7 linked regions of the Homo sapiens genome follow. The protein of the gene in region 1 purifies or fractionates together with the protein of each later gene. This does not show direct contact. Each region holds a gene or a part of one and is shown in the gene's direction. Other genes may lie near its edges.

Evidence for each region.
Region 2: the proteins of CNTROB (region 1) and DNAJC8 purify together in Homo sapiens (affinity purification with mass spectrometry; one large-scale study listed by BioGRID and IntAct). This does not show direct contact.
Region 3: the proteins of CNTROB (region 1) and ZNF800 purify together in Homo sapiens (affinity purification with mass spectrometry; one large-scale study listed by BioGRID and IntAct). This does not show direct contact.
Region 4: the proteins of CNTROB (region 1) and PLXNA3 purify together in Homo sapiens (affinity purification with mass spectrometry; one large-scale study listed by BioGRID and IntAct). This does not show direct contact.
Region 5: the proteins of CNTROB (region 1) and MOCOS purify together in Homo sapiens (affinity purification with mass spectrometry; one large-scale study listed by BioGRID and IntAct). This does not show direct contact.
Region 6: the proteins of CNTROB (region 1) and MAP3K4 purify together in Homo sapiens (affinity purification with mass spectrometry, with the first as the bait; one large-scale study listed by BioGRID). This does not show direct contact.
Region 7: the proteins of CNTROB (region 1) and CROCC purify together in Homo sapiens (co-immunoprecipitation; one large-scale study listed by IntAct). This does not show direct contact.

The regions. Positions count from the first base shown.
Region 1 is NC_000017.11:7,938,706-7,942,205, forward strand, and holds part of CNTROB (centrobin), read left to right. Parts: intron 1-807; coding exon 808-1,044; intron 1,045-1,390; coding exon 1,391-1,537; intron 1,538-3,500. UniProt on the Homo sapiens protein: Required for centriole duplication. Inhibition of centriole duplication leading to defects in cytokinesis.
Region 2 is NC_000001.11:28,209,030-28,212,529, reverse strand, and holds part of DNAJC8 (dnaJ homolog subfamily C member 8), read left to right. Parts: intron 1-1,892; coding exon 1,893-1,959; intron 1,960-2,463; coding exon 2,464-2,558; intron 2,559-3,500. UniProt on the Homo sapiens protein: Suppresses polyglutamine (polyQ) aggregation of ATXN3 in neuronal cells.
Region 3 is NC_000007.14:127,382,709-127,386,208, reverse strand, and holds part of ZNF800 (zinc finger protein 800), read left to right. Parts: intron 1-53; coding exon 54-149; exon of another isoform or gene 150-683; intron 684-3,500. UniProt on the Homo sapiens protein: May be involved in transcriptional regulation.
Region 4 is NC_000023.11:154,471,781-154,475,280, forward strand, and holds part of PLXNA3 (plexin-A3 precursor), read left to right. Parts: intron 1-809; coding exon 810-905; 3' UTR 906-3,500. UniProt on the Homo sapiens protein: Coreceptor for SEMA3A and SEMA3F. Necessary for signaling by class 3 semaphorins and subsequent remodeling of the cytoskeleton. Plays a role in axon guidance in the developing nervous system.
Region 5 is NC_000018.10:36,200,997-36,204,496, forward strand, and holds part of MOCOS (molybdenum cofactor sulfurase), read left to right. Parts: intron 1-2,116; coding exon 2,117-2,193; intron 2,194-3,500. UniProt on the Homo sapiens protein: Sulfurates the molybdenum cofactor. Sulfation of molybdenum is essential for xanthine dehydrogenase (XDH) and aldehyde oxidase (ADO) enzymes in which molybdenum cofactor is liganded by 1 oxygen and 1 sulfur atom in active form.
Region 6 is NC_000006.12:161,113,769-161,117,880, forward strand, and holds the end of MAP3K4 (mitogen-activated protein kinase kinase kinase 4), read left to right. Parts: intron 1-1,354; coding exon 1,355-1,534; intron 1,535-3,081; coding exon 3,082-3,102; 3' UTR 3,103-3,612; downstream 3,613-4,112. UniProt on the Homo sapiens protein: Component of a protein kinase signal transduction cascade. Activates the CSBP2, P38 and JNK MAPK pathways, but not the ERK pathway. Specifically phosphorylates and activates MAP2K4 and MAP2K6.
Region 7 is NC_000001.11:16,945,931-16,949,430, forward strand, and holds part of CROCC (rootletin), read left to right. Parts: intron 1-328; coding exon 329-475; intron 476-830; coding exon 831-1,061; intron 1,062-2,400; coding exon 2,401-2,594; intron 2,595-2,868; coding exon 2,869-2,996; intron 2,997-3,500. UniProt on the Homo sapiens protein: Major structural component of the ciliary rootlet, a cytoskeletal-like structure in ciliated cells which originates from the basal body at the proximal end of a cilium and extends proximally toward the cell nucleus.

The DNA.
Region 1 (3,500 bases):
TGAACCCAGGTCTACCTGGCTCTGGAACAGGAACTCTTATCTACTATATTATAATCCTATGAGCTTGTCAACTATTGTGTTTGTTTGTTTTGAGATGGAGTCTCGCTCTGTTGCCCAGGCTAGGGTTCAGTGGCACAATCTTGGCTCACTGCAACCTCCGCCTCCCAGGTTCAAGCAATTCTCCTGCCTCAGCCTCCTGAGTAGCTGGGAATACAGGTGTGCACCACCATGCCCAGCTAATTTTTATATTTTTAGTAGAGACATGGTTTCACCATGTTGGCCAGGCTGGTCCCAAACTCCTGACCTCAGATGATCTGCCTGCCTCAGCCTCCCAAAGTGCTGGGATTACAGGCATGAGCCACTGCGCCTGTCAACTATTGTGGGGTTTCTTTTGGTTTTATTTGAGATGGAGTCTTGCTCGATGTCGCCTAGGCTGGAGTGCAGTTGTGTGATCCCAGCTCACTGCAACCTCCACCTCCCAGGTTAGAGCGATTCTCCTGCCTTTGCCTCCCAAGTAGCTGGAATTACAGGCACCCACCACCACGCCTGGCTAATTTTTGTATTTTTAGTAGAGATGGGGTTTCACCATGTTGGACCAGGCTGGTCTCAAACTCCTGACCTCAGGTAATCTGCCTGCCTTGGCCTCCCAAAATGCTGGGATTACAGGTGTGAGCCACCGCACCCGGCCTAATTATTGTGTTTTTAATGAGCATAATTCTCAGCAGGCACCTTGTATGAGGGTCAGAGGGCAGATCGCTGGTCTCTGAAGAGCCTACTAAGGAGCTTGGTTTTCTTCTGCGGCTGTAGGAGGAGGAAAGGCAAGCTCTGACTCTGAGGTTGGAGGCAGAACAGCAGCGGTGCTGTGTCCTGCAGGAAGAGCGGGATGCAGCTCGGGCTGGGCAACTGAGTGAGCATCGAGAGTTGGAGACTCTTCGGGCTGCCCTAGAAGAAGAACGGCAGACCTGGGCCCAGCAAGAGCACCAGCTTAAGGAACACTACCAGGCGCTGCAGGAGGAGAGCCAGGCTCAGCTGGAAAGGGAGAAGGTAAAAGTGGCAGTTGGAAGAGCTGAGGAACTAGGGAGTAGATGAAGGGCAAAATAATTGAATGGGATGGAATGTTAGAATATGGGGGATACATATAGGCAGGAATGGAGAGTAGAGAGCCATGTGTGGGAGACAAGGTTGAGAGTATAGGGCCAGCAGGAAGGGCTGGGGGTAATGAATACGTGAAAGGCCAAAGACTGAAATTCAACAGGGATGGGGAAATAAAACAAATGGGAGGAGCTGGGGGAAGCTTGGATTTTAGGGTTTGGGAGGATGAACTGGGGAGTGTAGGTAACCAGGAGATAAGAAATGAGGTATGTATATACATTTGATTTGTCTTTCATAGGAGAAGAGCCAGAGGGAAGCCCAGGCCGCCTGGGAGACCCAGCACCAGTTGGCATTGGTGCAGTCTGAGGTGCGGCGGCTGGAAGGAGAGCTGGATACAGCTCGGAGAGAGAGAGATGCCCTGCAGCTGGAAATGAGCTTGGTGCAGGTCAGAAGGCAGAGGTTTCTTGAGGTTTTGTTCTGACAGAAGTAGATCTGAGGCAGAGGGACCTCTCAGGAGTTGTGGCAGACACTCCCAGTTCAGGTGTTTGGGGTTTAATTCCATTAACAGTTTCTATGTAGTATGGGTAGTTTTCTGTCCTAAACTCAGAGCTATTTCTTACTGAGTGACCATTTCCCACAATATGTCAGACTGACCTAGTGTTACTTTTAGGATTAAATAGATTTAAATCTATTAAAGATACCTTATGTTATTTTAAGAGATGACACCACACTTAGTGGGTTGACAGAGCAGGTGAAAGCTTTTGTCAGAGACTTGATTCCAATTGTAACAGTGTGCTTTGTAATTCTCATTACTTGAATAACTTGTATTAATTTCTCTGAGTAGGTCAGGGACCCAGGAGGGCAATGATTTTTTAATTTACTTATGAAACTTCCATAACAGCACATGGCCTGGCACAGAATTGTACTCAAAAATTGTTTGTCAGATATAATTACACTTTGAAAAACTCTTTCCATCTAGCTAACACACTGAATTTTAAATTCAAACTAGTCGGACTCTTGCCATGGAATAGAGCAGGAGTTGGCGAACTTTTTCTGTAAAGGGCCAGACAGTAAATATTTTTAGCTTTGTGGGTTGTATGGTCTCAGTTGCAACTACCCAACTCTGCTGTTATACCACAGAAGTAGCTATAAACTGTACGTAAACAAATGGGCACAGCTGTGTTCTAGTACAACTTATCTAAACAGGCAATGGAGGGCTGAATTGGGCTGTAGTTCGCCGATCTCCAGAATAGAGGAAAGGATTGGAGAGAGCTGTGTTCCAGCCCATGGGGGAGACACAGCGTTGAAGAGGAAAGAGTATTGCATTAGGACTTAGGGCACTTACGTCTACTTCTAGCTAGAATTTTGACCTTTATGGGCCTCTGTTTTTATGTATAAAATGTGTAAGGACAAATTGATGAATTTTCCAGGTGCAAGCCAGTCTGAGAGGCTATGTTCCTTATAAATGGTTAACTTAAGGAGGTACCAGTGAGGCCAGCATTTGAGAACCACAATCCTTTGGCCCGGTATGGTGGCTCATGCCTGTAATCCCAGCACTGTGGGAGGCCAAGGCGGGTGGATCACTTGAGCCCAGGAGTTTGAGACCAGCCCGGCCAACATGGTGAAACCCTGTCTCTACTAAAAATACAAAAATTATCCAGGTGTATGGTGCACACCTGTAGTCCCGGCTACTAAGAAGGCCGAGGCAGGAGAATCGCTTGAACCCGGGAGGTGGAGGTTGCAGTGAGCCCAGATTGAACCAGTGTACTCCAGCCTGGGCAACAGAGTGAGACTCCATCTCAAAAAAAAAAAAAAAAAAAGAATTGACCTAGGGCTTCAGGTGTTACAATGAGATCACATGCGATAAAGACTAAGAAAGCATCCGGGTGTGGTGGCTCGCACCTGGAATCCCAGCACTTTGGGAGGCCGAAACGGGCAGATTGCTTGAGCCCAGGAGTTCAAGACCAACCTGGGCGCAATATGGCAGTACCTAAACTCTGCTAAAAATACAAAAACTTAGCCGGGTATAGTGGCATGCACCTGTAGTCCCAGCTACTCGGGAGGCTGAGGTGGGAGGATCAACTGAACCCTGGAAGTAGAGGCTGCAGTGACCCGTGATCACACCACTGCACTCCAGCCTGGGTGACAGGAGCGAGACCGAGTCTCAAAAAAAAAAAAGACAGAAAGGGCCAGGTGTGGTGGCTCACGCCTGTAATCCCAGCACTTTGGGAGGCTGAAGTGGGAGGATTGCTTGAGTCCAAGAGTTTGAGACCAGTCTGGGCAACATAATGAGACCCCATCTCTACAAAAAATAAAAATATTAGCTGGGTGTTGTGGCACCAGCTTGTAGTCCCAGCTACTCTGGAGGCTGAGGTGGGAGGATCTCTTGAGTCTGGGAGGTCAAGACT
Region 2 (3,500 bases), on another chromosome or scaffold:
CGGGCAGATTGCTTGAGCTCAGGAGTTCGTGACCAGCCTGGGCAACATGGTGAAACCCCGTCTCTACAAAAAACGAAAAACAACAACAGCAAAAGCCAAAAATTAGCCGTGCCTGTAGTCCCAGCTACTCAGAAGGCTGAGGTGGGAGGATCACTTGAGTCCAGGAGATTGAGGCTGCAGTGAGCTGGGATAGCACCATTGCACTCCAGCCTGGATGATAGAGCAACACTCTGTCTCAAAAAAAAAAAAAAAAAAAAGAATAGAACAACGAATATTCATGTATCCACCATCTATATTGAATAGTTAATTTCATTTATATATATATATATATATATATATATATATATATATATATATATATTTATTTATTTATTGAGACGGAGTCCGGCTCTGTCACCCAGGTTGCAGTACAGTGTTGCGATCTTGGCTCACGGCAGCCTCCACCTCCTGAGTTCAAGTGATTCTCTTGCCTCAGCGTCCTGAGTAGCTGGTATTATAGATGTGTGCCACTGTGCCTGCCAAATTTTTGTATTTTTAGTAGAGACGGGGTTTCACCATGTAGGCCAGGCTGGTCTCGAACTCCTGACCTCAAGTGATCTGCCAGCCTCAGCCTTCCAAAGTGCTGGGATTACAGGCGGGAGCCACTGCTCCTGGCAGACACTGACTATATATTTAACTATATATTTTTGGCTGAATCATTGTAAATTGCAATAAACCATGATGCTTTACCCCTAAATACTTCAGCTTGTACCCTTCCCAAAAAAAGGACATTTTCTTGCATAATCACTTATCCCACCTAACAAAATAAGGGCTAATTCCCTACGATCATCTGAAACCCAGTCTAGTAGAGGTTTACAAAGTGCAGATGCCAAAGACTAACTCAGAAGGTCTGAGGGTGGAAATTAGAATGTTGTCTTTTTCAGAAGCTTCACAGGGTTGGAGCACAGGCAGAATGAGAAACTGCTTTAGATTAGGAGTTCTTTTAGGAGAGAGTTGATGTCTCATACCTGCTTTAGCCACCTTAGTGCTTAGTACAGGTTGAGTATCCCTTATCTGAAATGCTTGAGACTAGAAGTATTTCAGATTTCAGATTTTTTCAGATTTTGGAATATTTGCAGAATGCATAATGGTCGAGCATCCCTAATCCGAAAATTCAAAATGTTCCAATGAGCGTTTCCTTTGAGCATCATGTTAGCACTCAGAAAGTTTCAGATTTTGGAGCCTTTTGGATTTTGGGTGCTCAACCTGCATAAGGAACATAATAGGAACTTGATACCTTTCAGTCTCCCTCCTCCCCCAAATTATTACAACATCTTCATAGTGCTAGGCTTCCATTTGTTTTTGTTTTTGTTTTTGTTTTTGTTTTTTCCTGGAGACAGGGTCTCACTTTGTTGCCCAGGCTGGAGTGCAGTGGCACAATCTCAACCTCCCAGGCTCAAGTGATTCTCCCACGTTAGCTTCCTAAATAGCTTGGACTACAGGCGACCACCACCATGTCTGGGTAATTAAAAAATTTTTTTTTTGTAGAGACAGGGTCTTGCTATGTTGCTCAGGCTGGTCTCGAAGTCCTGGGCTTAAGTAATCCTCTCACCTCAGCCTCCCAAAGTGGTGGGATGACAGGCGTGAGCCTCTGTGCCTGGCATGTTTGGTCTCAACTTTGTGATTAAAACCTGAAATGTTTCCTAGTTGTACCTTTACCTTTTGGTGCTTGAATTTTGTTAAAGATCAGTATTTCTGGGCATTTAAAGAGATTTGTTAATTTTTTAAATGCTTTTGCTAAGAGTCTCTTTTTGCCGTAGGACCTTAGAGCTTTTGGTTGTAACGAGACAGGGCAGGCTGGAAGTTAGTAAATGTTTCCCTTATTGACAACCCCAACTTTTCTCTTATTGTAGTTATCCATCTTGGTGCATCCTGACAAAAATCAAGATGATGCTGACAGAGCACAAAAGGCTTTTGAAGGTATTTGTAAATTTACCTGCTTCTGAGTATTAGATTGTGAATGGCAGGGCCTAACTGTTCCTTGTCCTAGATCAAGCAAAGACTGTTATAGTTTTGTCTTCTGGTCACCAAGAAGCTGTGGTTTTCAGTAGAGCAGTTGCCATTTCAAAGCAGAATGTTGTTGTTTAAGAAGTAGACCTTAACTTTGCTTTGTTAAAACTTTTATATGCCAACAAAGACTGTTATTGCATAGGATCATTTTTTTTCTTTGAACATAAAGAATTTTATCACTGAATTAAATCCAGATGTAGTGTATTTAGCCTTGAGTATATATTTAATTTTTTCCAAGGCTCTTAAGGAAAGTCATTGCTATAGTTGAATGTTTTTTTTAACTTAGTTTAACGACAGTAAATAATTAAAGTAGGGAATGCTTTAGAGAGCACAAGTCCATTTACACTGCCTGAGTATAGTTCAGACTTTCAGAGGGTGTTTGCAGAAACAGTTAATTTCAATGTTTTGCATTAGCTGTGGACAAAGCTTACAAGTTGCTACTGGATCAGGAGCAAAAGAAGAGGGCCCTGGATGTAATTCAGGCAGGAAAAGAATACGTGGAACACACTGTAAGTATTTATAGTGCTGCTGTGTTTACAGGAAGTATCAGCAAGCCTTGGGCACCTTGTAGAAGGGTACATATGAACATAGTAATGCCTACTGGCACAACCTGTGGCTACTTCTGTGCTCTCTACCACTTTGCTGTGGTGGTCATGAATAGTGTGTGCCTGAAGCTGTAATTCACCCCTAAGAGAAGAACTCAGATGAGGAGTAGCTGGTACACTGCTCCTACCTCTTTCCCTACCAGTCCTGTGTTGGGGAGAAAGGGTTGTTCTCTCCCTCTCATCACATATTGCCACTTACCCCATTCTTAGAGTGGAAACGTGGAGCAGCCTGTGACTCTTGACTCTTGATTTTTATTCTTGTCCCTGTGAAGGGTTTGCAACAAGGCTTGGCAAAGGCTAGCAAGAGGATAGGCGTAAACTTTTTTTAAAATAGGAGGAGGTTTATGTCCATCTTAATAACAGAGTTGGGAAGAACTCAGTTGAAGGAAACTGAGTTGTAGCTGGTGTTATTTTTGTTTGCTCTTGAGGGCATACATAAGTCTCCAATGTGGTGGGAAATGTCAGTATGGCTTTCCCAAGGTAAGAAAGGTCTTTTAACTTTTTACTTGCTGGGGCAAGAATCTTGAGGTCATTTGTAAGAGCTGCTTCAATTGTGATTGGATGACTTTTCACATGAAGAGCTTTGAAATCTGAGACAACTTTATAACCATAATAATGAATCCAGTTTCGGTGAGGAAAATGGATAAGAAGAGGAGACAAAGGGCCCATAACTATATCCTGCGGGTCATGTGTTGGAAATGGCACTTGTAGGCCCTATCCTGGTAGAAATAGGGAAAGTGCCTGACAGTTTCTCCTTAAATCATTGTGGCTTCGTATGTCTTTCACCTGTAAGAAAGTCATCCTTAGGCTTCCTGACCACAGGGTGGCAGTAGGGCCTTTCTGAGC
Region 3 (3,500 bases), on another chromosome or scaffold:
TTAAATAACCCTTTTTTTGTGGGGATTGGGGTGGGTGTTTGTCTTCCATGTAGTTTATATCCTGGAACCTGGAGATCCTCCTTTGTTACAGCAACCACTACAGACATCCAAATCTGGTATTCAACAAATAATTGAGTGCTTTCGATCAGGTATGAATGTTTTAGGATATATTTTTCAATCTTCACATAGTAGTTAAAAACTACCTAGAAGTCCTTAGAAATAATTTTTAAAAAACATTAAAATGTATATGTTGGCTTTCTTTATAGAATATTTAAAATTTTCATATTTTAAAAAAGTGGATGTATAAATACTGACTTGGTCTAGAGATTATTCTTCAGTACTATATATGGTATATTAATTTTAAAATAAATTTGTTTAGTATGATTTAAATAAATATATTATGTGGTGTATTTTCTGGTAAAGCACTTCTTAAAGATCCATTGATATCTTTTGGCATGTTTTGTGTAAACTCTCAAAAGGCAGTAAATTATTCTGGGTCTTCATGAGCTTTGGTACAGTAGATTACTCAGAATGTCTGAGATGTCATTTGTTCTAGGTTAATTACCTTATTTATGTTTGTGTGATCACCTCCTTCATCCTAACCCTTGAGTTTGTGGAGTTTTGGTATCTTTAATAGAGCGCAAGATAGAAGAAAGACAATATTCCAGCCCTGATATCTTCAGGTAGATTTGCTTAGATTTTATTTTCATTAGCTGATAATAAGAATTAGCTTTATAATAAATATAATTGTGTAATTGTAATCCAGTGTTTTAAAATAGGTATTACTTACAACATGTGAAATGATTGGGAACTGTTAGCGCCCCTATGTTATCAGTAAGATGTTAGGTTGCTGTGATTCCTATAATCCACTTGTCCACCCCTTGTGTATTTGGCTTCTCTGACATTACAGAGTATTCACTCAGATGTGAACAAGCAAATAAATATGACTGATGGACACTTAGAGGATTAGAATACCTTGTCATTATTTAAATCTTAACTAACTGAATGAAAAATTTCTGAGGTTCAAAGGAAAAATAATTCATATGTAACTACTTGTTTTGTATTGATGAGATTTTTTGAGTTGCTTGTTTCTAAATTGTTATAAACGGGGAAATCATATATTTGCTTTACTTTAGGATTCTAAGAAATAGAATCTGAATTAAAACATTTATTTTTTCTCTGACTCTCCAAAAGATCCATTTCTTAGACTTTTCATCTGTAGTACTCATGGCATTGCTTTTATCTGTATTTAATTTAGGAAGCATTGCTTGTATACCAAGTGCCTATCCTTATATTGGATGGTGGTATAAACTATTTTAGGGATTTTTTGTTGTTTGATTTTTACTTTTGATAATTGCCCTCGACTAACAGATAATTTATAGGTCAAATTTTCTTGTGATAAGTTCAATTAAAATAGAATTTTACTTATTAGGGACAGTATTTATATTTCTGGCATAACAGAAAAAATAGTGTCTGTTTGTTTTAGCTTCTTTTAGAATAGAGATTAAAGGGTTTTTTTGGTTCTTTCTCATACCATGGAAATGACAGCAATAGCTTTTCATATTTAGTAATATTACTTGTTATAGGTTTCTTTTTTAAAATTCTTAATTTGGAATTAATGAAGTTATACTATGTCAGTTTACTATAGCATTTTTTTATTGAGAAGTTAGAATTAGGCTGGGCGCGGTGGCTCACGTCTGTAATCCCAGCACTTTGGGAGGCCGAGGCGGGCAGATCACGAGGTCAGGAGATCGAGACCATCCTGGCTAACACGGTGAAACTCCGTCTCTACTAAAAATACAAAAAATTAGCTGGGGGGCGGCGGCGGGCGCCTGTAGTCTCAGCTACTCGAGAGGCTGAGGCAGGAGAATGGCGTGAACCCGGGAGGGGGAGCTTGCAGTGAGCCAAGATAGCGCCACTGCAGTCCGGCCTGGAGGAAAGAGTGAGACTCTGTCTAAAAAAAAAAAAAAAAAAAAAAAAAGAAGTTAGAATTAGTTAAGTCATAAGTGCTTTGACTTGTTAAAAAACAGCCTTATCAACAAGAACCTGTACCCAAAATCTGTGTGGGTACAGAATTAAAAAAGATTCCAAAAATCTTTTTTAATTTTAGAAGGCAAATATTTAAAGATTAAATTAATTATTTTCTTATTATGTTGTGATCATATCTGTTCTCTGTGTTTGTCGTATTTTTACTCTCTGAGCTAAAGAAGTGAGGCAGTGAAACGGGTAATTTGAAATGGTAAAATTCCAAAGCCATTTTATGTTGATGTTTTGAACTGCGATCTTTTTAAAATGATATCAGCAAATTTGCCTTTTGAGTTATTTTTTATTTAGGCAAATTCTGAAAATACTATTATTTTAATTTTCTGAGTACCCAACAGTTTAAGTTAGAGGTGATTTAGAAATATGCTGAGTGGTACAAAGAAACTAATCTTGGATTAAAAAAAGAATTATTTTACTTCATTACTGTATCCTGTAACTAAGAAATTTTAGTTTCTTCAAGATAGTAATCTCTTGCATTTCTGGTTAATCTAATGTCTACTGTGGTAGCCCTTCTTTAGCACTAAGGCATTTAAGTTGAGACTGACTAAAACCTTGGGAGAATGGTATGGAAGTCTGGACTGTATAACTTGGGGACAAAGATCCCTTCTAGCTCTGAGGCTCTGTTCTTCCTATTCCACTCTACTCCTAAGCACACCCTCAATGACTCATCTATTTCTAGGCTCTTTCCATTACAATTAGGTCACACACGTTGCATTTAAAGAACTATCCTGGTGGTGCTATATATCTTTGACAGATATTTGAAGATAGAACCCTGAAGTCCATGCTTTTGCTCTTGTTAACCTGTAGGGTATAAATCAGGTTGAATGGTAGTAATATGTTAGGTTATCTACCTTTATCTTCAAGCTCAGATAGTTATCTTCAACTGCTGTATCATCTCCTTTTGTGTCTCACCTTCTGCCTACACTGGGCTGTCTATGACCAGGTATTAATTCCTATGCAAGCTGGAAGTTCATAAAAAGTTCTGTCTTATGAAGGAGTTGACTCATTTTTAATGTCCACCACTTGATGTGTGCTATACTGACTGCTTGACCAGTTTTAACCCATCCTGTTTGCCTGACATTTCAGCTTTTCCTTTGAACTGTTTTCTTGGATTTAAATTACAAATTCTTATTGACTTCTGGTATATCTTTATTAGTCTGCTTAACTTGCAAATTAAGTTAAATGGGTTTTTCTTTTTATAATAAGTAATATGTGTCTGTGGTTTTAAATAGTAAAGTACAAAAGGGTATAGAGGAAAAAATAAGTTTCTATACTATTCTGTCCTTCAGTTCCCCTTTGCTCAGGCAACGCTGCTACATGGTTTATGTGTCTTCTTCCAGAGACCTTTTATACATATACAAACATATATCCCTCATTTTCTTCTTACACAAATGGTAGCTGACTCTACGTACTCTTGTGTACCTTTGCTTTATTAACTGTAGATTCAACTATTTATT
Region 4 (3,500 bases), on another chromosome or scaffold:
TGGGATCACAGGTAGATGCTGGAATTTGAGGGACCCAGGAGATAAGCCACTGGCTGGGTACAAAGTGGCCACTGGGCAAAAGTTAAAGGGCCTGAGCACTGGAAGGGATGGGTCAGGCTTTGTGATGAGAAATAGCCAGAGGCAGGAGGACATAGAGGTGTGGACTTTAGGATGGAGTCTGGGCTGGACACATTTGCAAGCCTGTGGATGGCATTTAAAGCCCTGAGCCTGGATGAGCTCACAGGGAAGCCACAAGTGGGTGTGGAGGGAGAAGCGGCCCAAACACTGAGCCCAGGGCCCCAGGACACAAAGAGGGGAGGGGAGGGGAGGTGCAGCAGCCAGCGGGGAGGATGCCTGAGAGCGCCTGGTGGGGTCTGGCAACCTGAGCCAGTGAGGACCCCTCACAGGTCAGGGAGTGGCAGTGGCCGGCTCCATCTTCCAGTGCTGCTGCTGGTGAAGGATGGTGACCTGCAGAACACTCACTGGGTCTGGCGAGGGTCACGGGGTCCTGGCGCGAGGGAGGCTTGGGCTAGGAGGTAATGGGAGGGGGAATCCAGCACGGCGAGTCCAGAGTCCAGGTCACTCTAGGGACAGGCCGCACCCTAGCTGTGGAGAGGAGGAGGAGAAAGTGCTGTCGTCGGAGGGGCATTTGGGGCTGGGGAGAGCTGGTGGGTTTGTACAGGGGCTGCGGGGGAGGACGGAGGGATGAGGCGTGTGGGAGGGAGGAGCCCAGCTGGGAAGTGGGGACTTTGCATGGCAGGAGCTGCGCCCCCTACAGAGCCCAGCTCCAGGGGACTCCTCTCCCCCAGATTCTCACGGCTCTGGACCGAGATGCCTCTTGTCGGAAGCATAAGTTGCGGCAGAAACTGGAACAGATCATCAGCCTCGTGTCCAGCGACAGCTAAGGTGGTGGAATCGGTGAGGAGGGGGCTTCTCAGTCCTGTGCCGTCCTCCCATCCAGGGGAGTGGCTGGCTCAAGCCTGGGTCCCCGGGCTGAGCCCTGGATTGGGTATCGTGGGGCAGGTCACCCTGGCCACGATGCCCCCGGCACACCCAGGCCCCCTTCATTAGTGCCTTGCTTTGGGCCCTGCAGGGGGAGGGGTGACAGGGCGAGCCCCCACCCCAGCAGCAGCAATACCCCCACCCTCCTGCCCTGTGCCCAGGTGTTGGGACAGTCCCACCCTCCCTGCTATTTATATCCCTCTGCCTATTTATTGAATCGAACTTCGCCTCTGTCTCCATCTGTAAATATGTGTCCCCCCACCGGATGTCGCCACCCTCACTCACCTGCCTCTTCTTGAGCTGTCCTGGGCCCTGCCACCCGTCTGGGCTCCTTTGTGTAGCATTATCAGCCTCGGTCTGGCCTCTGGCACCTCACCCTTGCCATGGCTGACCCCACCCATTCCAAGGCGGGGTCACGGTACCAGCAGCACTTGGGGTGAGGCCTCCAAAGCTTCCTCAGAATTGTGGCTGTGCCACGCTGGACCACAGGGTCCCCCTCAAGCATCTCGGGGCCCTATTCTCTCTGAGCACCTGGAGGGCTGGACTCAGGCTTGTGCCAGGGCCTGACTTGGGCCTGGGGGCCCTAGAACGCTCCTCCTCCTGAGCCTACTGCCAAACGTCCTCAGTGTTGTCTGCACCTGCTCCGACTCCTTCAGCCGCCCCATTCAGCGCCCGCTCCGTCCAGTGCCCGCCCTGTGGGGCCAAGGCGGCCGTGCCTTACTACTCTGTGTCTTCTGCCTCCTCTGAGGAATCTGGCCCTGTCTGACAGTCCCAGACCCCCCGTTCTCTCCTCTTTAGTTGCATGAGTTTTTCTTTGTTCATGGAATGTTTTTTCCTGATTAAATGTTGGGGAAATGCCATCCATGTGGGGCTCTGTCCTTGGGGCAGGTCAGTAGACCTGTGGATGCTGCATGAGCTGGAGCCCCATTGTGGGAGAAAGGACCACTCCTTGCAGGGTCCCAGAGGGTTTGGGGAGGTTCAGGGCCATACCCGACCCATCAGCAAACCCCGGTGGCTCTACCTTCAAGACAGATTCAAGGTAGATAGATTCTCCTCCCTTCCACCACCCCCACCCAGCTCTCCTGTGCCATCGTCTATCTCTGCCTGGATGCCAGTCTCCCTGCTTCTGCCCTGGCTCTCTTCAGCCTGTTCTCAGCGTGGGAGGCAGAGAGATCCTGTTATGATATAAGGTGGATCATGTTGCCTCACTGTTTAGAACCCTCCGGCGGTTTCAGCTGCAGCCAGCTCCTTCAAAACCTGACAATTGCATACTGTCGAGGTTGTGGCACCCATCATGGTGCACCTACCAAAGTCTTACTCCCAGGCCTGTTAAGTAATGCAGGTGGGGAGAAGGTGACATGCAATTTATTTATTTATTTATTTTGAGACAGAGTGTAGCTGTGTTGCCCAGGCTGGAGTGCAGTGGCAAGATCACAGCTCAGTGCAGTCTCAAACTCCTGGGCTCAAGTGATCCTCCCACCTCAGCCTCCTGAATAGCTGGGTGTATTAGTGCACTCTACTATGCCAGGCTTTTTTTTTTTTTTTTTTTGAGATAGGTTGCCGCTATGTTGTTCAGGCTGGTCTTGAATTCCTGGTCTCAAGTGATCCTCACCCCTCAGCCTCCCAAAGTATTGGGATTACAGGCATGAGCCACTGTGCCCGGCCAGGTGAGATGGAATCTTATTTTTACTTTTTATGTTTTTTTTTTTTTCTTTGACGGAGTGTCGCTCTGTCGCCCAGGCTGGAGTGCAGTGGCATGATCTCGGCTCACTGCAAGCTCCGCCTCCCAGGTTCACGCCATTCTCCTGCCTCAGCCTCCCGAATAGCTGGAACTACAGGTGCCCACCACCACGCCCGGCTAATTTTTTGTATTTTTAGTAGAGACGGGGTTTTACTGTGTTAGCCAGGATGGTCTCGATCTCCTGACCTCGTGATCCACCTGCCTCAGCCTCCCAAAGTGCTGGGATTACAGGCGTGAGCCACCATGCCTGACCTTTTTTTTTTTTTTTTTTTTTTTTTTTTTTGGAGACGGGATCTTGCCCTGTTGCCCACGCTGGAGTGCAGTGGCAAAATCAACTCACTGCAGCCTTGATGTCCTGGGCTCAAGTGATCTTCCTGCCTCAGCCTTCTGAGTAGCTAGGATTACAAGTGCTTGCCACCATACCCAGCTGTTTTTTGTTTTTTTTTTTTTTCTTTAGTAGAGATGGAGTCTTGCTGGTTTTGAACCTCCTGGGCTCAAGTGATCCTCCTGTTTTGGCCTCCCAAAATTCTGGGATTACAGTTGTGAGCCACTGTGCCCAGCCAAGTGAGATGCAATTTTTTTTTTTTTTTTTTTTGAGACAGAGTTTCACTCTTGTTGCCCAGGCTGGAGTGCAATGGTATGATCTTGGCTCACCGCAACCTCCGCCTCCCGGGTTCAAGTGATTCTCCTGCCTCAGCCTCCTGAGTAGCTGAGATTACAGGCATGTGCCACCACGCCCAGCTAATTTTGTATTTTT
Region 5 (3,500 bases), on another chromosome or scaffold:
TGGGTTATGCTCAGGACTCTTTCAAATGGTAACAGCTGGGACCTGTAAGGTCGAGTGTGTCAAGGCTGAAAATGGTGGCTGATCCAGGGTTCTGCTGGGTCAACAGTGGGGACACAGGGTTGGGTAGGCAACTAATCACCTCCAGGGTCCGGAGAAGGCCTGGGGCATAGACGGGAAGGGCTTTAGATCCCCAACAGACCCCACACAGACGCAAGGGTCCTGCACGTAGGGCCATGGCCTTGACGATAGAGTCAGTGTTAGCTGTGTAAGCCTCAGGCTGGACCACTGGGGAATGAGTCCCCGCTCCACTGCACACCAGCGAGGGGACATGTGACTTGTTCTCTGCACCTCATGTTTTTTCTGTAAAGTAGAAATGATAATATTGGGTCGGGTGTGGTGGCTCACACCTGTAATCCCAGCACTTTGGGAGGCCAAGGTGGGTGGATCATGAGGTCAGGAGTTCGAGACCAGCCTGCCCAACATGGTGAAACTCCGTCTCTACTAAAAACACAAAAATTAGCTGAGTGTGGTGGTGGGTGCTTGTAATCTCAGCTGCTCAAGAGATTGAGGCAGGAGAATTGCTTGAGCCCAGGAGGCAGACGTTGCAATGAGTCAAGATCATACCCACTGCACTCTAGCCCTGGTGACAGAGCAAGACTCCATCTCCAAAAAAAAAAAAAAAAGAAATGATAATATTGTCCTTTTAGAGCTAACATGGGTGAAGTATCAGAATGGTAGGGATCAATGTTAGGAGGCTATTTGATGCCTCTTTTATTTAGGACTTGTCCATAGTTGGGGGGCTTCTAAAACAGGAATGCTCATGTAAAACCTCTTGACTCCAAGTGTGATAATTTACCATGTAACAGAATCAAATGAGAAAAGAATGACAGGCATAACATAATGTAAGTTACAGGCAGAACAAAGCGACACCTCAAATTTAATTTGGCCAATAAGGGCACCTGAAGGCCAGGAGAAGTGGGGCAGCTCACTGGGGGCCAGGGCATGAATGGGCTGGGGGGGATCAGACCTCTTTCCTTTGATTCAGGTAGATGACTTTACAACAGATGACACGCCAACATTCCCAGAAAGCTGAATTTATTTATTTACCATTATAAGCCAATTTTTTTCTTGTGAACTTAGGACTAGAACTCAATAGATTTAATACTCAACCTAAAGGTTTATTGAATAAATACCTTGACTATGTTCTCAACTTTATTTTATAACTCAGCGAAGTACATCCCTTGACAGAAACAAAAAACTTTTATTTTAAGAAATCTATTAAGTATTTGATCAATAAATAATTGTCAATCAATAACTGGCTAGTTTAACAAATTTTTTTGTAGAGATGGGGTCTTGCTATCTAGAGATGGGGTCTTGCTTTTTGTAGAGATGGGGTGTTGCACAGGCAGGTAGTTTCAAACTCTTGGCCTCAAGTGATCCTCCCACCTGGGCCTCCCAAAGTGTTGAGATAACAGGCATGAGCCACTGCACCTGGCCACCCTAGGAAATTTAGAGCAGCCCAAGAAAACTGCAGAGTGGGTCAGGGCCAGAGGCAGCTGGACAGGTCTTGGTGTACAAAGTGCCCCCATCCTGAAGGGGAGAGCAATGTTTTATAAGACAGCAGAGGGAAGGTATTAATAGATTACAGCGGTATTAGTCCAATTTCACACTGTTATAAAGATACTACCCAAGACTGGGTAATTTATAAACAAAGGAGGTTTAATTGGCTCACAGTTCTGCATTGCTGGAGAGGCCTCAGGAAACTTACAATCATGGCGGAAAGGGAAGCAGGCACTTTCTTCACAAGGCAGCAGGAGAGACAGAGAAGAGCCCAGGGGAACTGCCATTTATAAAACCATCAGATCTCGTGAGAACTCCCTCACTATCACGAAATGAGAACAGCAAGGGGGAAACCATCCCCATAATCCAATCACCTCCTACCAGGTCCATCCCTCAACACCTGGGGATTACAATTAGAGATGAGATTTAGGTGGAGACATAAAGCCAAACCACATCAACAGCTAAGCCTAAAATCTAAAGCTCATTATATACCACGAAATGCACATGGATTGTTTTGACCACAGCTTGACCTGTTCTCCTTACCCCGTGGTTATAGGTTTGAAGATGGCACCATCTCATTCCTTGATGTTATCGCGCTAAAACATGGATTTGACACCCTAGAGCGCCTCACAGGTCAGTGGACATTTCTATCCCTGTGGAATTTGCTCCTGTTGTGTCCTTGAGGGAGCTCTGGCACAGGTGTGATTCAGGTAAAGGAGACAGAGTCTGTGGAAGTGACTGGCACTCCATGTAGTTAAATTTGATTCCTAGTAACTTCAAAACCACTTCAGAGAGCAAGAGAATGAGGTGGGGTTTTTGGATTGTTTTTTGTTTTTTCAGCTAAAATAACATTTTAACAGGTAGAAGACATTCCAAATCAGGAGATTGCTAGCTTCACAGAATGAGAGGAGCATCCCTGGGTCCTGGGAATGGTTACAGATCCTGAGGCCTTTACCTGCTCTTGCCTTTCTGGGTCCTCCCCACTGCCCCACGGGGGAGCTCTGCCTATGAATGAGCTGATGCTCAGAGAGGTTAAACGCCTTCCAGGCCAGGGAGCTGGAAACCAGGAGGGCAAGGATTTAACCCAAGTCATACTGATGCCTAACCATGAGCACCCAACCACTGTGTCTGCCGATGGTCTTCGCATGAGGCATGATTTCTTTCCTGGCCATTGCTCTTTTGTCACAGTAATGGGACCCTTCAGTGCCTTAACCTTAGCCTTAGCCCAACATAGGGGCAGACAGGATTCACGGGAAGAGAGGGTCGCCCTGATGGCAATGCAGGGAGGTGAGTGGGCATGATCTGGGACAAACGGAGTAGTTAATAAATACAGGCAGTGAGTAGTGAGTACTTTCCAAGGAAAGATATTAACAGGGCCCCCAAACTGCAGGTGACAGTGTCTAACAGGTCCAGGTAGCTCGGAATGCAAAGGTTGACTGTACCAGTCCACAATATGGCAAACCCTGATTTTTTTCCTATGTCATTGTTCCTTTTTTAAAAAATAAAAATTGTGGTAAACTATACATAACATAAAACTTACCATTTTAACTATTTTTAAGTGTACAACTCAGTCGTAGTAAATACATTCACAATGTCGTGCCACCATCACCACTATCTATTTCCAGAACTTTACCATACCAAACAGAAACTCTGTACCCATTAAACAATAACTCTCTATTTCCTCCTCCCCTTCCAACCCTTGGAACTACTTTTTTTTCTCTGTGGATTTGCCTATTCTTGGTAACTCATCTAAGTAGAATCATACGACATTTGTCCTTTTGTGTCTGGCTTCACTTAGCACGTTTCCAAGATTCATTCATGTTGAAGCATGTATTCTTCATTGCTTTGTGTAGTGTTAAAATGATTTAAACATTAATAATAAAAACAAACAGCAAAAATATGTTTAGAGGAAAAAACATACATTTTGTGATCTGTTACCA
Region 6 (4,112 bases), on another chromosome or scaffold:
TTTTACTTAGCATATGAGTGACTTTTTTTTTTTTTTTTTTTTTTTTTGAGATGGAGTCTCGCTCTGTCGCCAGGCAGGAGTGCAAGTGGCATGATCTCGGCTCACTGCAACCTCCGCCTCCCGGGTTCAAGCAATTCTTCTGCCTCAGCCTCCCAAGTAGCTGGGATTACAGGCACCTGCCACCATGCCTGGCTAAGTTTTGTACTTTGGTAGAGACAGGGTTTCACTGTGTTGGCCAGGCTGGTCTCGAACTCCTGACCTCATGATCCGCCTGCCTCAGCCTCCCGAAGTGCTGAGTGACATTTTTAAAGATTGAGAATACTATCTTTTAGAGAGTATATAAAGAAACACACATGTTTTGGACAGAAATTCCATGTGGTAGGGCTGCTCCGGAGACATTTCCAATCTCTATCAAAATTTTAAATGTGCATAGCACTTAAACCAAGAAGTTTTCTGCTTCTGAAAATGTATCTTATGATGATAATATTAATGAGCAGTTATACAAATGTAAAAAGACACGCATGAACTGCACATGGTAGCTTACCGTACACATACAGTATTATAGCAAAAAAGTTAGAAACCTTCATTTCTAAGTTAAAAGTTAGTGTTAAGTTACTAGTAGGAAATCAGTTAATTATAATGTAGCTATGCCTTGCAGCTGCTGAAACAGATCACATATAAGTGCTCAGTAAATATTAGCTAGCATTATTTCTATTAGCATTAAAATAGAAAGGCAGTTGTGATATCTGTGTTATTCCAGTAAAGCCACACATAAAAGAACAGGTTCTCATATTGAAGAATACATATTGGCAATGACGAAACAATAGTTTAGAAATTAGAATGCCATACACACTTAGTTCCTTCCCCTGTGAATCTCATTTTTCATAGGATCATAATGAAATAAGCTTTGCACTAATGCAATTTTTATTTTTCAATAAGGTAGCATATTAACCATCCCTATAAGAGAATTGGGTTTTATAGACTTTTTTATGTCATTTTATATATTTTTTAGTTGCATGATGATGGCTTCTAGATACTGTTGGACTAAATAGTGCACCCCAAATGGAGTAGGCAAACTATGCTGGCCACCTGTTTTATAAATAAAGTTTTGTTGGAACAGTCATATTCATTTATGTGTTGTCCATAGCTGCTACCATGCTGCCATGAGATTAGTGAATAGTTGTGATAGAGATCATATGGCCTGTCAACCTAAAATATTGTTTGGCCCTTTCAGTAAAAATTTGCTGTCCCCTGATATATATTAATGATGAGATGCTTAAAAACAGACTGAACATTTGCGTTGTTTGTGGCTGTGTAATATTAAAATCTGATTTTTTAAAAACATCTTTTTTAGAGGCCTTGGCATGAGTATGAGCACAACTTTCAAATTATGTATAAAGTGGGGATGGGACATAAGCCACCAATCCCTGAAAGATTAAGCCCTGAAGGAAAGGACTTCCTTTCTCACTGCCTTGAGAGTGACCCAAAGATGAGATGGACCGCCAGCCAGCTCCTCGACCATTCGTTTGTCAAGGTTTGGCAGATTACTGGATAGTCTTTTTCATGTTTAAGTGTTTAAGTTCTGTTTTGCATCAAGACGTTAATGAAATTTTGAAACTTTAAAGTAGCTATATCTGAAGTGGAAAGGAACTAAATGTATTATTATGCCAGGGATTTTTGTATGTGTTTTTTCATTTGGAAAATGTTCATTGAGGTTCTTCCACTTGATCTGTTTTGATGGTGCATTTAAGATACACCAGAGACAGTAAAATGGACTTTTAGATGGGACTGGATGAAAGAGTTTCCACTCTTGAGAGTGTATAGTCTACTTGGAGGGTCAAGACGGTAATGACTAATCATTATACTGAGAGCTGTGATAATGGTATATAAGGTTACTCAGAAGAGGAATTTAATTAAGTCAGCCAATCTCAGTTCTTTTTTCTCTAGAATGAGGTACCTTAGTTGTTTAAGAGCCACAGCCAGGTCAGAAGTGGGGGAGGGGGCATGGAAGACAAAGTAAAGAAACTTGGAAACGCTCACCCTTCCGGGAGAGTGGGATGGTCACAGAGCCCTGTGTAGGTAGATCCTGGTGAACACAGGATGTGGACAAGGGCAGGAAGATAAGGCTAGAACAGTAACCAGGAGCAACATGAAGGAGTTTCCATTTTATTATAAACATAAATGATGACATAGAGTTTTAGAAAGATCACTCTAGAGGCAAAGGAATTGAGAAGGTTCTGATACAGCCAAGGGGTTGGGAGAGGGCGTTCCGGGTGAGTGAACAGCGGCATTTAAGAGTTAGAGTGCCGTGGCTGACCCCTGATTGGATGTGAAAGGTGAGTGAGGGGAGGAGTCTAGAGTGGCTCCCAGGTTTCTGGTTTGTGTCATCAGGTCACAGACTCTATTTGCCAGGGTAGGGAAAGAAGCAGCTGGGTGAGGGGTGGGTCGGGAGGTGGTGGGTCCTCTTTGGTGGATGAAGCTTGGGGTACATTTGGAGCATCTGCTTGGAGATTTCACATGGGCATTTGGATACCTGGGGCTGGCACTCAAGAGGGATTTTGGGTAGGGCACAGGTGTGGGAGACAGAAGTATTGCTGGGAGGGTCCACAGAGGACAAGGGGATGAGAACAGAGCCCTGGAGAAAAGAGCCTTGCAAGGGCCCTGCAGGAGAGAGTCCCTGGGAAAGGAAAGGAAGGGGCAGAAGAGTGGGGTGATGCTCTTATTGGTAAGTGGGAGTAAGGGGCAAGCAGCAGGATCAGCTATGGAGACATTAGGGATTTGTAATTAAATAACAATTTATGTCTTAGTTATGAAGTGCATAACAATTTATATTGACCTGAGAGTGCATATAGGCGTTTTAGAAAATGCTTTCATTAGTCAGTTCCCAGGCTTAACTTTAGAGCAGTAACTTACCTCTGCCATTGTTCATTACATTTCTTAAGCCTTGCCCTCTGTGCCCAGTACAGTGCTGGGAGCATCAGGATGAGTGGATGGGGCCTTCCCCGTAAGACTCATACTGCGCGTATGCACAAGCACACACCTGGCTCTGCAAGAGCTCAGCTCTCTCCTGCTTCCTCACAGGTTTGCACAGATGAAGAATGAAGCCTAGTAGAATATGGACTTGGAAAATTCTCTTAATCACTACTGTATGTAATATTTACATAAAGACTGTGCTGAGAAGCAGTATAAGCCTTTTTAACCTTCCAAGACTGAAGACTGCACAGGTGACAAGCGTCACTTCTCCTGCTGCTCCTGTTTGTCTGATGTGGCAAAAGGCCCTCTGGAGGGCTGGTGGCCACGAGGTTAAAGAAGCTGCATGTTAAGTGCCATTACTACTGTACACGGACCATCGCCTCTGTCTCCTCCGTGTCTCGCGCGACTGAGAACCGTGACATCAGCGTAGTGTTTTGACCTTTCTAGGTTCAAAAGAAGTTGTAGTGTTATCAGGCGTCCCATACCTTGTTTTTAATCTCCTGTTTGTTGAGTGCACTGACTGTGAAACCTTTACCTTTTTTGTTGTTGTTGGCAAGCTGCAGGTTTGTAATGCAAAAGGCTGATTACTGAAATTTAAGAAAAAGGTTCTTTTTTCAATAAATGGTTTATTTTAGGAAAGCTCAGTTATATTGTCTTTTAATGGTTAACACTTATGAGCCAACGCAGTATGATACAGAAGTCTGTCATTTTCACTCATCTGTTCCTCAAAAGGAGGAGCACAATCACGTGTGCTAAAGATGGTCACTGGGTTCGGCGTCTCTTTAGGATCGCCTCGCTGAAAAGCAAAGGAAATAAATGAAGCAACACTAATGACGTAAGGTGGTTCCTTTTAAGTAGTTTCTATTAACCAGCAAGTTTATAACAGATACAAGTTTAAGCCTTGTTATCACATGTTGGGAGTTCACTTTATTTTTAAACCAAGATGTTTAGGTGCTAGGTCAGTGTAATTACTGCTGAATGATCTGATGAGAAAGCATCTTTTTCAGAAGTAAACATTTCAGCATTTAGCTTTCCAAAACAGCCCAAATTATACATCATTGGTGTTTTTTTTGTTTTTGTTTTTGCTATTAAATTTTTTAAAAAGATTGACCATAGAGCTTCCTGAAATCTTTTTGGAA
Region 7 (3,500 bases), on another chromosome or scaffold:
GGTCCTTGGCAGGGGGGCCTGCGCTGTCCGCTGCAGCCTGGGCTCTGAGCAGTGCTATCCCTAGACCCTACTCAGGGGATCCTCTGAACTCTGGCCCTGCCCTGCAGCTTGAGCTATTTTTGCACAGCTCTGTGGTGTGTGGCTTTTAAATGGCTCATAAGCAGCAGGCTTTCTGCGGTGATTTTTTTTTTTCCATCTCACACTGTGTCCCCTCCTTGTCTCCCCTACCCTGTCTCTGAGGGTCCATCTCTCTGGGTCTCTTCTTGGGCCTCCTCACCTCCTCCCGACCTTTCTGCCTTTCCTCATTTCTCGGGGCCTGACCCTGCAGGCTGAGGCTGGCCGCGTGGAGCTCGAGCTCTCCATGACCAAGCTGAGGGCAGAGGAGGCCTCCCTGCAGGACTCCCTGTCCAAGCTGAGCGCCCTCAACGAGAGCCTTGCTCAGGACAAGTTGGATCTGAACCGCCTTGTCGCCCAGGTACGCTGTGCACCTGCGGGCCCACCTGCCTTGCCCACCCATCCTCCCCACTCAGTGAGGCACCCCGGGCCCAGCCCTGTACCTGTCTTGGCCCCTGCCTCCCTTTCTGTCCCTGGTTCTCTGTCTGTCTCTGGTTCTCTGTCTGTCTGTCTATCCCCTCTAGGCGTCAAAGCACAGAAGTTCCATGGGCCCTCCTCATCTCCCCCTCCCCAGTGTCCCATACACCCAAGGGCACTGTCCCTCATTCCCTGGGAGCCTCCCCTGGGCTATTGTTGCTGGTGGGTGGGTGGAGGAGGCGTCCTGGTCCTGGGAGGGACGCCCTGCTCACGAGGCCCCACTCCTACCTGGCCTCCAGCTGGAGGAAGAAAAGTCCGCCCTGCAGGGCCGGCAACGGCAGGCAGAGCAGGAGGCCACAGTGGCGCGGGAAGAGCAGGAACGGCTAGAGGAGCTGCGGTTGGAGCAGGAGGTGGCGCGGCAGGGCCTGGAGGGCTCCCTACGAGTGGCGGAGCAGGCCCAGGAGGCATTGGAGCAGCAGCTCCCCACGCTGCGCCATGAGCGCAGCCAGCTGCAGGAGCAGCTAGCGCAGGTGGGCAAAGCTGTGTGTGGGGGTGGTGTGGAGAGCATGTGGGGCAGGCCGGGCTCCCAGCCCCCTGCATCCAGTCCTGGGTTAAGTCACAGGCACTGGAGCCTGCTTCTGGGTTAAATCCAGCCCCACTTCTGCTAGCTGGGGACCTTGGACAAGCTGCCCAATCTCCCATACCTCAGTTGCCCCATCTATAACATGGGGCCAGCCAGGCGCAGTGGCTCACGCCTATAATCCCAGCACTTTGGGAGGCCGAGGCGGGTGGATCACCTGAGGTCCGGAGATCAAGACCATCCTGGCTAACACGGTGAAACCCTATCTCTACAAAAAATTAGCTGGGCGTGGTGGCACGCGCCTGTAGTCCCAGCTACTTGGGAGGCTGAGGCAGGAGAATCGCTTGAACCCAGGAGGCAGAGGTTGCAGTGAGCCAAGATCATGCCACTGCACTCCAGCCTGGGCAACAGAGCAAGACTCCGTCTCAATAATAATAATAATAATAATAATAATAATAATGATACAGATTAATAATAGGTGGAGACTTTTTAGAATTGGAATCTTAGACTTTTGGGAACATCACATCTGGAAGAGACCTTAATGTTTCAGGGATCCAGGGACCTTCATGCAAGGTCTATCCTGGAGCGCCTAGGTTTCTGGGAGGGGCCTCTAGAGGATGGGGTAGGGGGTGCAGGAAGCAGGGTGCAGGTCTCCACCTTGAGGCCTGCCGAGCAGCTGCACTTGGGTCTGGTTTATATATTCAGCTTCTCTGCAAGTTTAGAGTAATACAAGGGTTCTGTTACTCCCAGAGCTGAGTGAGGGCCCTCATTTTTTTTGTTTCATTTTGTTTTGTTTTTGTTGTTGTTTTTTTTTCCAGACAGAGTCTTGCTCTGTTGCCCAGGCTGGAATGCAGTGGCACGATCTGGGCTCACTGCAACCTCCGCCTCCAGGGTTTAAGCTGTTCGCCTGCCTCAGCGTCCCAAGTAGCAGGGACTACAGGCGTGCACCACCACGCCCGGCTAATTTTTGTATTTTTAGTAGAGACAGGGTTTCACCCCGTTGGCCAGGCTGGTCTTGAACTCCTGACCTCAAGTGATCCACCTGCCAAAGTGCTGGGATTATAGGCACGCACCACCGTACCTGGCTGGGCCCTGGTTTTTGTACACACGTGCATTGCAGATCTAGAGAAGGTCATGACTTGCCCAAGTACATGTAGCACATCAGGGCAGACCCTGGGCTCAAACCCAGGCCTTCTGCCAGGACTGGGTTAGGCCCAGAGTTGGGGTGCTGCACGATGAACAAGCTGGGGGACGCTGGGAGTGCTACTCAGTCTCTGGGTGGGGGCCAGCTCTCCCGGCAGCTGAGCGGGCGGGAGCAGGAGCTGGAGCAGGCCCGGCGGGAGGCCCAGCGGCAAGTGGAGGCGCTGGAGCGAGCGGCCCGTGAGAAGGAGGCGCTAGCCAAGGAGCACGCTGGCCTGGCTGTGCAGCTGGTGGCTGCGGAGCGTGAAGGCAGGACCCTGTCAGAGGAGGCCACACGCCTGCGGTAAGGCCTTGGGCTCTGCCCAACCCGCCCTGGGGGGTCCTCCTGGGGCCACACCATGACCAGCCACACGCAGGCACGGGCCCCCAGGGGCAGTTACTAAGGAGTCTGGCTTGCCGACTCGTCCTAGCTGTGGCTCAGGCTTCCCCAGGGAGTGTGGGCCTGGCCAGGCAGGTAGATTGGCACTTGGCCCATGCCTGGCCACTCCCTGAGATCCACAGTTTCCTGGGGCCAGGGAGGCTGAGTCCCAGGGCCTCAGGGACTGTATGTGCTGCAGCTTGGAGAAGGAAGCCCTGGAGGGCAGCCTGTTTGAGGTGCAACGGCAGCTGGCCCAGCTTGAGGCCCGCCGGGAGCAGCTGGAAGCCGAGGGGCAGGCCCTGCTGCTGGCCAAGGAGACCCTGACTGGTACGAGGGGCTGGGGACTTGGGGGGAACACCAGGTTCCAGCCCAGACTGCAGCCTCCCAAGGTCTGGGGTCTCACAGAAGTTGGGAGCACTGGAGTAGGAGTCTGGCTGGCCTGGGTTCCAGTCCTGTGCCACCACTTAGATCTCACCTTCCCTTGAGCAAGCCCCTTTCCTCTCTGGGCTGCAGATTCCTCAGCTGATGATTGGAGGTGGCAATGCCCACCTTCTAAGCCTGTTGCCAGGATGACGTGGGAAAAGCGTGTAAGGCCGTGGCACGGTGCCTGGCTGAGTCAACAGTAACTGCCGTTCATCGGTCATCAGGCCTGTTAGTCTGAGTTCTCTGTGCTTTTCAGATGACTCTCTTGGCCCCAGAATCCCAGCCCCACTTCCCTGCACCGTTCCCATCCAGTCTCTGAACTCAGGGCTTCTTTCTGCTCACCTAACATTAACTAAGCACCTACTTGGGTCATGGAAATTAATTTTCCTGTCCATGTACACCTGAGCC